Homo sapiens: one gene and its partners. The protein of the gene in region 1 purifies or fractionates together with the protein of each later gene. This does not show direct contact. Each region holds a gene or a part of one and is shown on either strand. Other genes may lie near its edges. The genes, in order: ZBTB34, ZNF496 and KLHL24.

The links.
Region 2: the proteins of ZBTB34 (region 1) and ZNF496 purify together in Homo sapiens (affinity purification with mass spectrometry; one large-scale study listed by BioGRID and IntAct). This does not show direct contact.
Region 3: the proteins of ZBTB34 (region 1) and KLHL24 purify together in Homo sapiens (affinity purification with mass spectrometry; one large-scale study listed by BioGRID and IntAct). This does not show direct contact.

The regions. Positions count from the first base shown.
Region 1 is NC_000009.12:126,877,490-126,881,138, forward strand, and holds part of ZBTB34 (zinc finger and BTB domain-containing protein 34), read left to right. Parts: intron 1-1,900; coding exon of another isoform or gene 1,901-1,910; coding exon 1,911-3,425; 3' UTR 3,426-3,649. UniProt on the Homo sapiens protein: May be a transcriptional repressor.
Region 2 is NC_000001.11:247,300,827-247,304,475, reverse strand, and holds part of ZNF496 (zinc finger protein 496), read left to right. Parts: intron 1-3,199; coding exon 3,200-3,649. UniProt on the Homo sapiens protein: DNA-binding transcription factor that can both act as an activator and a repressor.
Region 3 is NC_000003.12:183,634,031-183,637,779, forward strand, and holds the start of KLHL24 (kelch-like protein 24), read left to right. Parts: upstream 1-1,592; 5' UTR 1,593-1,763; exon of another isoform or gene 1,764-2,281; intron 2,282-2,504; exon of another isoform or gene 2,505-2,579; intron 2,580-3,749. UniProt on the Homo sapiens protein: Necessary to maintain the balance between intermediate filament stability and degradation, a process that is essential for skin integrity.

The DNA of each region.
Region 1 (3,649 bases):
AATATAATTGTTAGATCTGGTTTTGTTATGTTTCTGTCAGAGGATGGAGCCGGGGCTATATATACTTAAGTAGTTCTGAGCAGTCTGGCGCTGCAGATTTTAGGCCACAGGAAGGAAACCTGTTGTAGGTGTGCCGCAGCTGTGAGCGCTAGTAGAAGGTGATTCCTTTTGATGTGTCCATCACCCTTTCACTCTTGTTGTCTAAAATAACTACTGTTTAAAAACACTGTCTTGGCAGAGCGCGGTGGCTCACGCCTGTTATCTCAGCACTTTGGGAGGCCGTGGCAGGCAGATCACTTGAGGTCAGGAGTTCGAGACCAGCCTGGCTAACATGGTGAAACCCCATCTCTACTGAAAATACAAAAACTAGCTGGGTGTGGTGGTGCACGCCTGTAGTCCAGCTACTCAGGAGGCTGAGGCAGGAGGATCACTTGAACCCAGGAGGCAGATGTTGCAGTGAGCCAAGATCATGCCATTGCACTCCGGACGACAGAGCGAGACTCCATCTGTAAAAATAAAATAAAAATAAATAAAATAAAATATTGTCTAAAATAACTCTTCACTGGTCGGGTGTGGCAGCTCACACTTGCAATCCTAGCACTTTGGGAAGCTGAGGTGGGAGGATCACGAGCTCAGGAGTTCAAGACCAGCCTGGGCAACATAATGAGACCTCATCTCTAATAAAAAATAGTAATAATAGGCCGGTGTGGTGACTCTTGCCTGTAATCCCAGGACTTTGGGAGGCCGAGGGGAGCAGATCACCTGAGGTCAGGAGTTCGAGACCAGCCTGGACAACATGGTGAAATCCCGTCTCTTCTAAAAATACAAAAATTAACTGGGCATGGTAGCGCATGCCTGTAATCCCAGCTATTCAGGAGGCTGAGGCATGAGAATTGCTTGAACCTAGGAGGCGGAGGTTTCAGTGAGCCGAGATCACGCCACTGCACTCCAGCCTGTGCAACAGAGCAAGATTCTGTCTCAAAAAAAAAAAAAAGTAATAATAACTCTTCACTGAAGGAGACTGAGCATGGTAAGTCTCAGCCAAAGCAACCCAACCCAAAAGAGATATAAAGGTGTACAGAGCTGAAGGGCAAACACACAAATCAAGACAATAATACTGAAAAGGGTTTAGCTCCATTTATTGTATCCAGTGTGCTACAGAGTTGAAAAATACCAATCAGAAATACACAAGTAAGGTAGAACATTTTTAGATGAATTTAGTTTTGTTTTTGTTTTGTTTTTTTTTTTTTTTTAGAAGGAGTCTCACTCTGTCCGCTAGGCTGGGATGCAGTGGTGTGCTCTCGGCTCACTGCAACCTCTGCCTTCTGAGGTCAAGCGATTCCCCTGCTGCAGCCTCCCAAGTAGCTGGAATTACAGGTGCACAACACCACACCAGGCTAATTTTTGTATTTTTAGTACAGATGGGGTTTTACCATGTTGGCCAGGTTGGTTTCAAACTCCTGACCTCAAGTGATCCGCCTCCCTCAGCCTCCCAAAGTGCTGGGATTATAGGTGTAAGCCACTGCGCCTGGCCTGAATTTAGTTATTTTTCACAAAGTACTTCAAACCCTCAAAAGTACTTGAAATGGGGAAATATTTTTCCTAAAAGGAGACCAATTTCTCAGTCAGAGCCAAAATAGTCCTACTATGTGTAAAATATTTTACTTTTGATCAAGATGAATATTAGGCAATTATGACATTAGGCTAATTGATCATTAGTTTATTTGGCTTTAGGTGAATTAACCAAAACATGAAAGACTAAAACAAGGGGAAGAATGCTTCAGGTAGATTTTAGGAGGTATGATAGCCACAATGGTATTGTTGTTGTAAGCTTGTGTTTATGCCACTTGTACTTAGTGAGGAGTCATTGGTGAATGATGCAAACTCTCTCTCTCCGCAGAGTACGCTTCATGTCAGTAGAAATGGACAGCAGCAGTTTTATTCAGTTTGATGTGCCCGAGTACAGCAGCACCGTTCTGAGCCAGCTAAACGAACTCCGCCTGCAGGGGAAACTATGTGACATCATTGTACACATTCAGGGTCAGCCATTCCGAGCCCACAAAGCAGTCCTTGCTGCCAGCTCCCCATATTTCCGGGACCATTCAGCGTTAAGTACCATGAGTGGCTTGTCAATATCAGTGATTAAAAATCCCAATGTGTTTGAGCAGTTGCTTTCTTTTTGTTACACTGGAAGAATGTCCTTGCAGCTGAAGGATGTTGTCAGTTTTCTGACTGCAGCCAGCTTTCTTCAGATGCAGTGTGTCATTGACAAGTGCACGCAGATCCTAGAGAGCATCCATTCCAAAATCAGCGTTGGAGATGTTGACTCTGTTACCGTCGGTGCTGAAGAGAATCCCGAGAGTCGAAACGGAGTGAAAGACAGCAGCTTCTTTGCCAACCCAGTGGAGATCTCTCCTCCATATTGCTCTCAGGGACGGCAGCCCACCGCAAGCAGTGACCTCCGGATGGAGACGACCCCCAGCAAAGCTTTGCGCAGCCGCTTACAGGAGGAGGGGCACTCAGACCGCGGGAGCAGTGGGAGCGTTTCTGAATATGAGATTCAGATAGAGGGAGACCATGAGCAAGGAGACCTATTGGTGAGGGAGAGCCAGATCACCGAGGTGAAAGTGAAGATGGAGAAGTCCGACCGGCCCAGCTGTTCCGACAGCTCCTCCCTGGGTGACGATGGGTACCACACCGAGATGGTTGATGGGGAACAAGTTGTGGCAGTGAATGTGGGCTCCTATGGTTCTGTGCTCCAGCACGCATACTCCTATTCCCAAGCAGCCTCACAGCCAACCAATGTATCAGAAGCTTTTGGAAGTTTGAGTAATTCCAGCCCATCCAGGTCCATGCTGAGCTGTTTCCGAGGAGGGCGTGCCCGCCAGAAGCGGGCTTTGTCTGTCCACCTGCACAGTGACCTGCAGGGCCTGGTGCAGGGCTCTGACAGTGAAGCCATGATGAACAACCCCGGGTATGAGAGCAGTCCCCGGGAGAGGAGTGCGAGAGGGCATTGGTACCCGTACAATGAGAGGTTGATCTGTATTTACTGTGGAAAGTCCTTCAACCAGAAAGGAAGCCTTGATAGGCACATGCGACTCCATATGGGAATCACCCCCTTTGTGTGCAAGTTCTGTGGGAAGAAGTACACACGGAAGGACCAACTGGAGTACCACATCCGGGGCCATACAGATGATAAACCATTCCGCTGTGAGATCTGCGGGAAGTGCTTTCCATTCCAAGGTACCCTCAACCAGCACTTGCGGAAAAACCACCCAGGCGTTGCTGAAGTCAGGAGTCGCATTGAGTCCCCCGAGAGAACAGATGTGTACGTGGAACAGAAACTAGAAAATGACGCATCGGCCTCAGAGATGGGCCTAGATTCCCGGATGGAAATTCACACAGTGTCTGATGCTCCCGATTAAGATGGTAAAGAAGTGCACCCAAACAAAGCACATTAATCAATGCATATTTGTGATTTGCTTTGTTGTAATCTTTGGTTTTCCCAACCATCTGGAAATCTCTTGGTCTCTTGGCAGTTTTTCTAAAGTTTCTGGATGGAACACTTCGTTGTGTTTATCCTTTCCCCTGCCCTCCCTCCCCGAAGGAGCTCAAAGCATGAAGGGCAACGCATCCAGGGAAAACACAG
Region 2 (3,649 bases), on another chromosome or scaffold:
TGCTTGAACCCAGGAGGCAGAGGTTGCAGTGAGCCAAGATCATGCCATTGCACTCCAGCCTGGGCAGCAAGAGCGAAACCCCATCTCAAAAAAAAAAAAAAAAAATCTAGCAGGTCATTTCCATGGGATTTTAAGGCTCAGCAATAACCTCTGGCTCAGTTCTCTGTTCTCCAGGCCCAGCAGGCTACTGGCCCTGCTCTTTGGAACTCAGAAGGAAATGACTTCACCTCCTGAGCCTGTACTCTCTGGTCCCATGATGACAGTGGCAGTCCTGTAACCTCTGAGCCACCTTTGGAGTCATTCTTCCCTTTTCTTGAAGGATAGTACATATTCATAGCCAGATAGATCTATCGGCCAGTTTGTAGAATCCCAGAAGTCCTAGCCTTCTTTTATTTCATCCCATCTCTTTTCCTTTCAGTTCCAGCTGGCAGTGTTTCTGCTGGTATATAATACTCAGAAACCCTGCCCTCCATGCAGTCCACAGGGTTGCAGGCCGTCAGACGAGGGTGTCCTCCATAGACCTTCCTGGATAACCTCATCTCTGTTCCTGGCTTCTGTTGAGATGGTTGATTGGATCCGTGAATCATACCCAGAATCTCTTTAACAAATGATGAGCCAGCCACACTCTTGGTGTCTCTCCAGTGCACGCTTTCTTATTTTTTGCCGTATGGATAGACAGAATTTTCCAAATCTTGAAGTCATGGTTCCTTTTTGCTACAACAATTCCTTCTTCAGTTTATCTCTCTCATCTCACGTTTCACTATAAGCGGCAAAAAACTAGTCTTTGCCTTTGACACTTTGCTTCGATACCTCCTCAGCTCAGTATCCGAGTTCCTTACTTACAATTTCTGTTTCCACAGAACAGTTGAATATGGTTTGGCCAAATTCTTTGCCACTTTATAATTGGAGGATCTCCTTTTCTCCAATTTCCTATAACGTCCGTATTTCTACCAGCCACTTCCTCAAGGCTTTTTAAACATGCACTTCAGAACTCTCCTGGCCTCTCCCCATGACCTAGTTCTAAAATCACTTCGACAGTTTTTGGTCTTTGTTTTAGCTGCACCCTACTTCCTGGTGCCAAAGTCTATGTTAGTCTACTGTGGCTACCATAACAAGGTACCACAGGCTGGGTGACTTAAACAACAGAAACTTACTTTCTTACAATTCCAGAAGCAACAAGTCCAGAATCAAGGCTTCAGCAGAGCTGGTGTCTTCCAAGGCCTTTCTCGTCTTGGAGACGGCTCCCATCTTGCTGTGTCCTCACAGGGTCCTTCCCTCTGTTGAAGTCTGCCTCCAGTCTCCTCCTCTTAGAAGACCAGTGATTTTGGATTGGCCCCACCATCTGACTTCATTTTGACTTAATTACTTCTTGAAAGACCCTATCTCCAAGTAATCACATTCTGAGGCTCTATGGGTTAGGGCTTCATCATGTAAATTTTCAGGGGGACACAATTTCGCCCATAACATGCACTGTCTGCTCTCATAATTCCATCTCCTCGCCCAGTTAACAAGTAAGAGATCTTAGCGGTCCACCTTGTCACTTTGTTTTCTTCTTCCACCCAAGTCCATTAACAGAAGTCAACTGCTGATCAAGTACCTTGTCATCGGCAGCCTGGTAAAAGTTACACCTTGCTCTTGTCTCCACCCCATGAGGTCCACAAAGTACATCATACACATGACCTCACCTGCCCCACCAGCAGCTTAGAGCAACGGGCTGCCACTGTCATTCTCACCTTGTAGACGAGATGACCCAAGCTCAGAGAAGCTGTCTGGCTGGAACGAGGTTCCTGCAGCTCGAAAACCAAGAGTCGAGATAAGCGTCAAACATAGCCTCTCGGCGGGCGCAGTGGCTCACACCTGTAATCCCAGCACTTTGGGAGGCTGAGGCAGGTGGATCACCTGAGATGGGTGGCTCGCTTGAGCCCAGGAGTTTGAGACCAGCCTGGGCAACATAATGTGACCCCATCTGTACAAAAAATTAAAAACACATGCACACACACAAACACAATCTCTGTCTTCATCTGATGATTTCCCTCCTATACTACGTGGGTTCTTGGCAGACTCAGTACCCACTCCCAGACTCATGTTCCCCCGACCCCCTTGTGACTGAGGGACAAATGCCCCCTCCGCTTCCACCATTGCCCTTTATCTCTCTGCTCTCCATAGCCTCTGTGTCTTCCTGCCCTGCTTCTGTTTGTCCAACTTCTCCTGTCCTGAGCTGCTCTGACTAGCCAGGGCTCTCCTCCCCACAGTCATGAAGCCCAGACTAACCATGTTCCTACTCTTATCTGGGAGGGCCTGGTTCACTCCCCCCAAGTTCTAGATTTGAGTTCTACATTTCACAGCAGTGAGGAAACAGGCCACCTGTATGGTGGGCTCTGCTCCATAAGCCGGGACCTCAGGCCGGGCTCTGCACTGTCCACCCAGCCCCGCCCCGTGGTTCCACCTTCCCAACATCACAGACTCAGGATGCAGGAAGTCCAGAGCAGCTTTATCCATCACCACCTGTGGCCTCAGAAATGCGGTGCTACTGGGAGCCGGGGAGCTGTGGGGGACCCAGGACTCTGGGCAGTCTGGGACTGTTGAGCAGCCTAGCAAGGCTGAGTAGCATTTCAGCCCTCCTTCCTGGCACAGATCACCTTAGTTTATGTGTAAACATGGCAACCAATAGGTCATCGGGTTGCGTCCAGGAGCAAATAGGAATGTGCATGTCAAGTCTAGCACAGTCCCTGGAGCATGCAAGTGCCCAGCACATGATATGTGTAGGTTGTAGAGTCTTCCTCTCTCAAGTCCTTTCACTATCCTGATAGAGCTTTCCCCCATGCCTTGTTAAGTGCATGATCTGTAAATGGTCAAGGCTTTACCCAGATAAATACAGACTCCTAGAGCTTGGGGGGATGGGGTGGTCTCCGTGGGTAGAGAACAAAAGGGTTGGGGGTGGAGATAAGGGAAAATGGCTGGGAAGAGGGAGAGCAAGGTGCCCAGCATGCTCTGGACACAGCGGGGCCCATGCTGAAGATTTCTTCCTCACAGGCTACACCAGTGGCCCCTGCAGGGCTGGCCAGGCCGCCCCGGTCACCGAGGACCATTGTAAAAACACGGGTTTGTAAACTCCAAGCTGAGTGTTCCTCCGCCGCGGTCATAGGGGCTGGGATGTGGCCTGTGCAGCGTCGCTGACCTGCATGTTGCCTTCCTGTAGCTGGCGGCAACCCGCGATCTCTAGAGAACAGCCTGGATGAAGAAGTGACCATCGAGATCGTTCTCTCCAGCTCTGGGGACGAGGACTCCCAGCATGGCCCGTACTGCACAGAAGAGCTGGGGAGCCCCACAGAGAAGCAGCGCAGCCTCCCCGCCTCCCACCGGAGCAGCACCGAGGCCGGAGGCGAGGTGCAGACCTCCAAGAAGTCCTACGTGTGTCCGAACTGTGGGAAAATCTTCCGCTGGAGGGTCAACTTCATCCGGCATCTGCGGAGCCGCAGGGAGCAGGAGAAGCCGCACGAGTGCTCGGTGTGCGGGGAGCTGTTCAGCGACAGCGAGGACCTGGATGGGCACCTAGAGAGCCACGAGGCCCAGAAGCCTTACCGGTGTGGTGCCTGCGGGAAGAGCTTCCGCCTGAACTCCCACCTGCTCTCCCACCGGCGGATACACC
Region 3 (3,749 bases), on another chromosome or scaffold:
CAGAGAAGCAAGCTTCCCAAACAGTCATTGGAACTGCGGACCAATGACTCTAAGAAAAAAGTACAGATACACACACACACACACACACACACACACACACACACACACATACACACACGATGGATTATCTGATGGGTTTGATTATATGGAGTTGTATTGAAAGCATTTTATCGTTTTAGAAAAACTAAGAGGACATTGTGATAGATCCATAATAAAATAAGCAAAGAAAGAGGATAATTATTAAAACTCCAAGGAAAACCAAAAGCCATACAAGATGGGAAATTGTATACGATTTGTCTCAACAATGAATAATAAATACATGGTCTCATTAGCGTAAACATTAATGATTTAACCAGATTATGAGAAGGATAGCTTCCTTAATAGGAAATAGTCATACATTATTTGGAAATATATAAATACCAGAAGAAATAGCTCAAATAATTGAATAAGAGATGGAAAAGAGGCCTAAAAAGTATGTTTAAAAGGCCTGTATATAGGCCTTCCATATTATTTCCGCCTCTGGTCATCAGAACACAACGCCTAATTTAATAGAGGCATGACGGTATTCATGACATGTAGAAGATAGAGATTTTTAAATTTGGTATCAGAAACCAAAAACTAGTTAAATGGTTGCAATCATCCTTTAAAAGAATACCTGCAGGCGGGGCGCAGTGGCTCATGCCTGTAATCCTAGCACTGTGGGAGGCCAAGGCAGGCGGATCACTTGAGGCCAGAAGTTCGAGACCAGCCTGGCTAACACAGCCTCTACTAAAAATACAAAACATTACCTGGGCGTGGTGGCGGGCACCTGTAGTCTCAGCTACTCGGGAGGCTAAGGCGGGAGAATCGCCTGAACCCGGGAGGCAGAGGTTGCAGTGGGCCGAGATTGCGCCACTGCACTCCACCCTGAGTGGCAGAGCGAAACTCTGTCTCAAAACGAAACAAAACAAAAAGCTTGCAGACACAAAACGACAACACAATGTCCTTTAGGAACTCCATCTACCTTGGAAAACAGGGATTTGTGACAGCTTTGGTCGACGTGCATGTGCGTTTAAAATAAAAAGGTAACCTAGGATTTGATACCAGGGACAGTAACAGCTTTATCAAAAAAAAAGAGGTGGTTTTCCTTGCTCCTTCTAAGGACTGGGGTTTTAGTCTCGTCCACCCTGCAGGCCCTCAGGCCTGATTTCCGATTGTCTATCAAAGGGTCAAATAAAAAGCTCTCTAAGCTTCGACCCAAGCTTTAAAGTCGAAGGGCTGATCGCGGGCTTTTTCCTTGGGACGTGGCAGGGGCCTTTGAGGGAAGGAAAGAAACGACTCTGGCTTCTCACTCGGCTCCTTACACAAGAGGCATTTTTTTAACTGTCTCTGCTTAAAACAAGGTGTTTTTGAGTCAGCAGCCCTTTGGGTGGGTCTCGTCCTCTTGGGCACCCGACACCCACCCCACGGCGGGAGCCCCAGGTGGCCCCGGAGGCCACCGGGAAGCGTGAACTACATCTCCCAGGGTTCCCCGGGGCGGAGGACGCCCACCCGGATTGGCCAGGGTTCGCTGACGCTCAGTGTTTTGGCCCGGACGGTCACATGTTTCCTTTGTTGTGAGCTGCGGCAGAGACTGGTGGCTGGAGGAGACGCCGGCGCTGGAGAGTGCGCTGCGCCGCCCGCCGCTGAGGGACCGCGGGGTTAGCCACTGCTGGCTGCTTCCAGTGTTCGCCGAGAGGTACCGGGGGTGACAGCTCCGGGACCGGCCGAAAGGCGAGGAACCGGTCAGAGTCTGAGTCCTCGGGGGCGGAGGGGCGACGGCGGTCCTGACCACCGGGGTGTCTGCGGGAGGGCAGCCAGCGGCGGCCGGCCTCTCAGAGCCAGACTGGCGGTCTGCGGAGAGGCTGCAGCTGGGCTACAGGGCCCCTTTCTGAGGCGAGGGGCCTCCAGGGTTCACCTGGGGGGTCTTCCTCCCCCGCTTGGTAGCTACAGCCCTGAGGGAGGGCGCGCGCGCCTCCTGGCACTACGGCCCGGAACCGCGGCGCGGCTGGTGCGGCCTGGCTAGGGCGGGGTGGTTGCCGGGACTGGGGGTAGCCGCAGGTGCGGTAGGCTAGTCGCCGCGGGGCCGGGCGCCGCCGGGGGAGGCGGCTGGGCAGACGGGTGCTGCTTGTTGCCGATGGGCTGCGAACGGGGCGCTGCTTTTTATTTCAGGAAGCCCGGGGGAGTGCGACCGCCTCAAATCCAGCCTTCTTGTTTGGTGGGACGACCGTCGGTTCTGTCCGGGAGGAATGACGGGGTCAAGGTGGGGTCCCCAGGGCCGCGGGCCCGTGAAGCCCCATTAAAGCGATTGCGAAATGCACTCGGCACTGTCACCTGACCGTTACCCCCGCCCCCGTCCCCTGCGAGCCTTTGTTTACCACGATCGCGACACCCGGCCCGCTGCGGCCGTCCCCGGGGAGCCGGGGCGGGCGGGGGAGCGGGCGTTCCGCCGGCGCAGTCCCCGCCTAACCTCCCCACCTTCTTACCACTCCAGGACTCAGTTTCTTAATTTAGTTCCTAATGGACCCGCCCTCAAGTTCTGGACACCCCGGGTGAAGACTGTTAACGCGGCGGGGATTGGGCGCCTGCGGCAGCTTGTGGGCGGTACCCGAGGGAGAGTTCGAGTTTTTATTGGCGAGTTTTTATTGTCACTAGGTGGGCCTGCCCTGGGCCATTCTTCCCGCCCCCTTGAAGGTGATCTGGAGGACGCGCGGGAGCGCGCGCTGTCGCTGCTTTTGCAGCTGCGGCCCGAGTGGAGCCGGGTGGCGCGGGTGCGGGAGGCGCGCGCTCCCGCCCCTGCTGCGGGCGGCTGGTAGCCTCGGTGGCCGCCGCCGCCGCTGCTGCTGCCTGATCCTGCAGGCAGTTCTGGGCACGCAGAGATCGGCTACCGTGGCCTGCCCTCCGAGGACCGGAAAATTAACACCCTTTAACTAGTGTCGCGTTATCTGCCGGGTGGTTCGCAGGAAGTCCTGCGAACACGTTGTTGCCAGTTCTGTAAACGTGTTTAGATAGCTAAATATAGATCACAGTGCCACATCTTAGGGGGCCCCACGGTCACCCCTGAGGCAGTGGCTGTTCACAATTGATTTTAGTGGATTTTAATGATTAATCACTTGCTCTTGTGGGCAGCTTTTCAAAAATCACGTCTTTGTATTTGCAGCTACAGACTGGGTCCACCAGCTAAGAGGTTGGTTTTTATTAGGGTTGTAAAATAGATTTAAAATCTGCTTGTTGTTGGCTGAGATTTAAAAGCAGATTTCTACTATTTAAAAAAGATAGTTTGAAGATACTCCCCTAAAAAGTAAAGATTCTTCCATACTCGGCTCGGATGAGTTGTTTTCCTTGTTTGAGGGATTCTAGGTCACACACTTCTATGTTTTAATTCCCGTGGTAATTCAAAATGTTTGAGAAGTGGGTTGCGACTGTGTCGTTTTAAAATTGTACATTAAGCTGACGGTAATAAAATCTTCAAGACCAATCATTTTTAGCCATAGTGTGTTGAAAATGGTTTTTCTAATCGCTTGAGTTAATAGGGTATTTGCGTTTTGTCAGATTTTCTTCTGCAGATATAGGAATTCACTCAAGACTTAATACACTTGTTTTGTTTTTGAGACAGGGTCTCACATTCTGTCACCCAGGCTGGAGTGGAGTGGTCTCACTCCGTCACCCAGGCCATCTCAGCTCACTGCAATCTCCGCCTCCCGAGTTCAATCGATTCTCCTGCCTTAGTT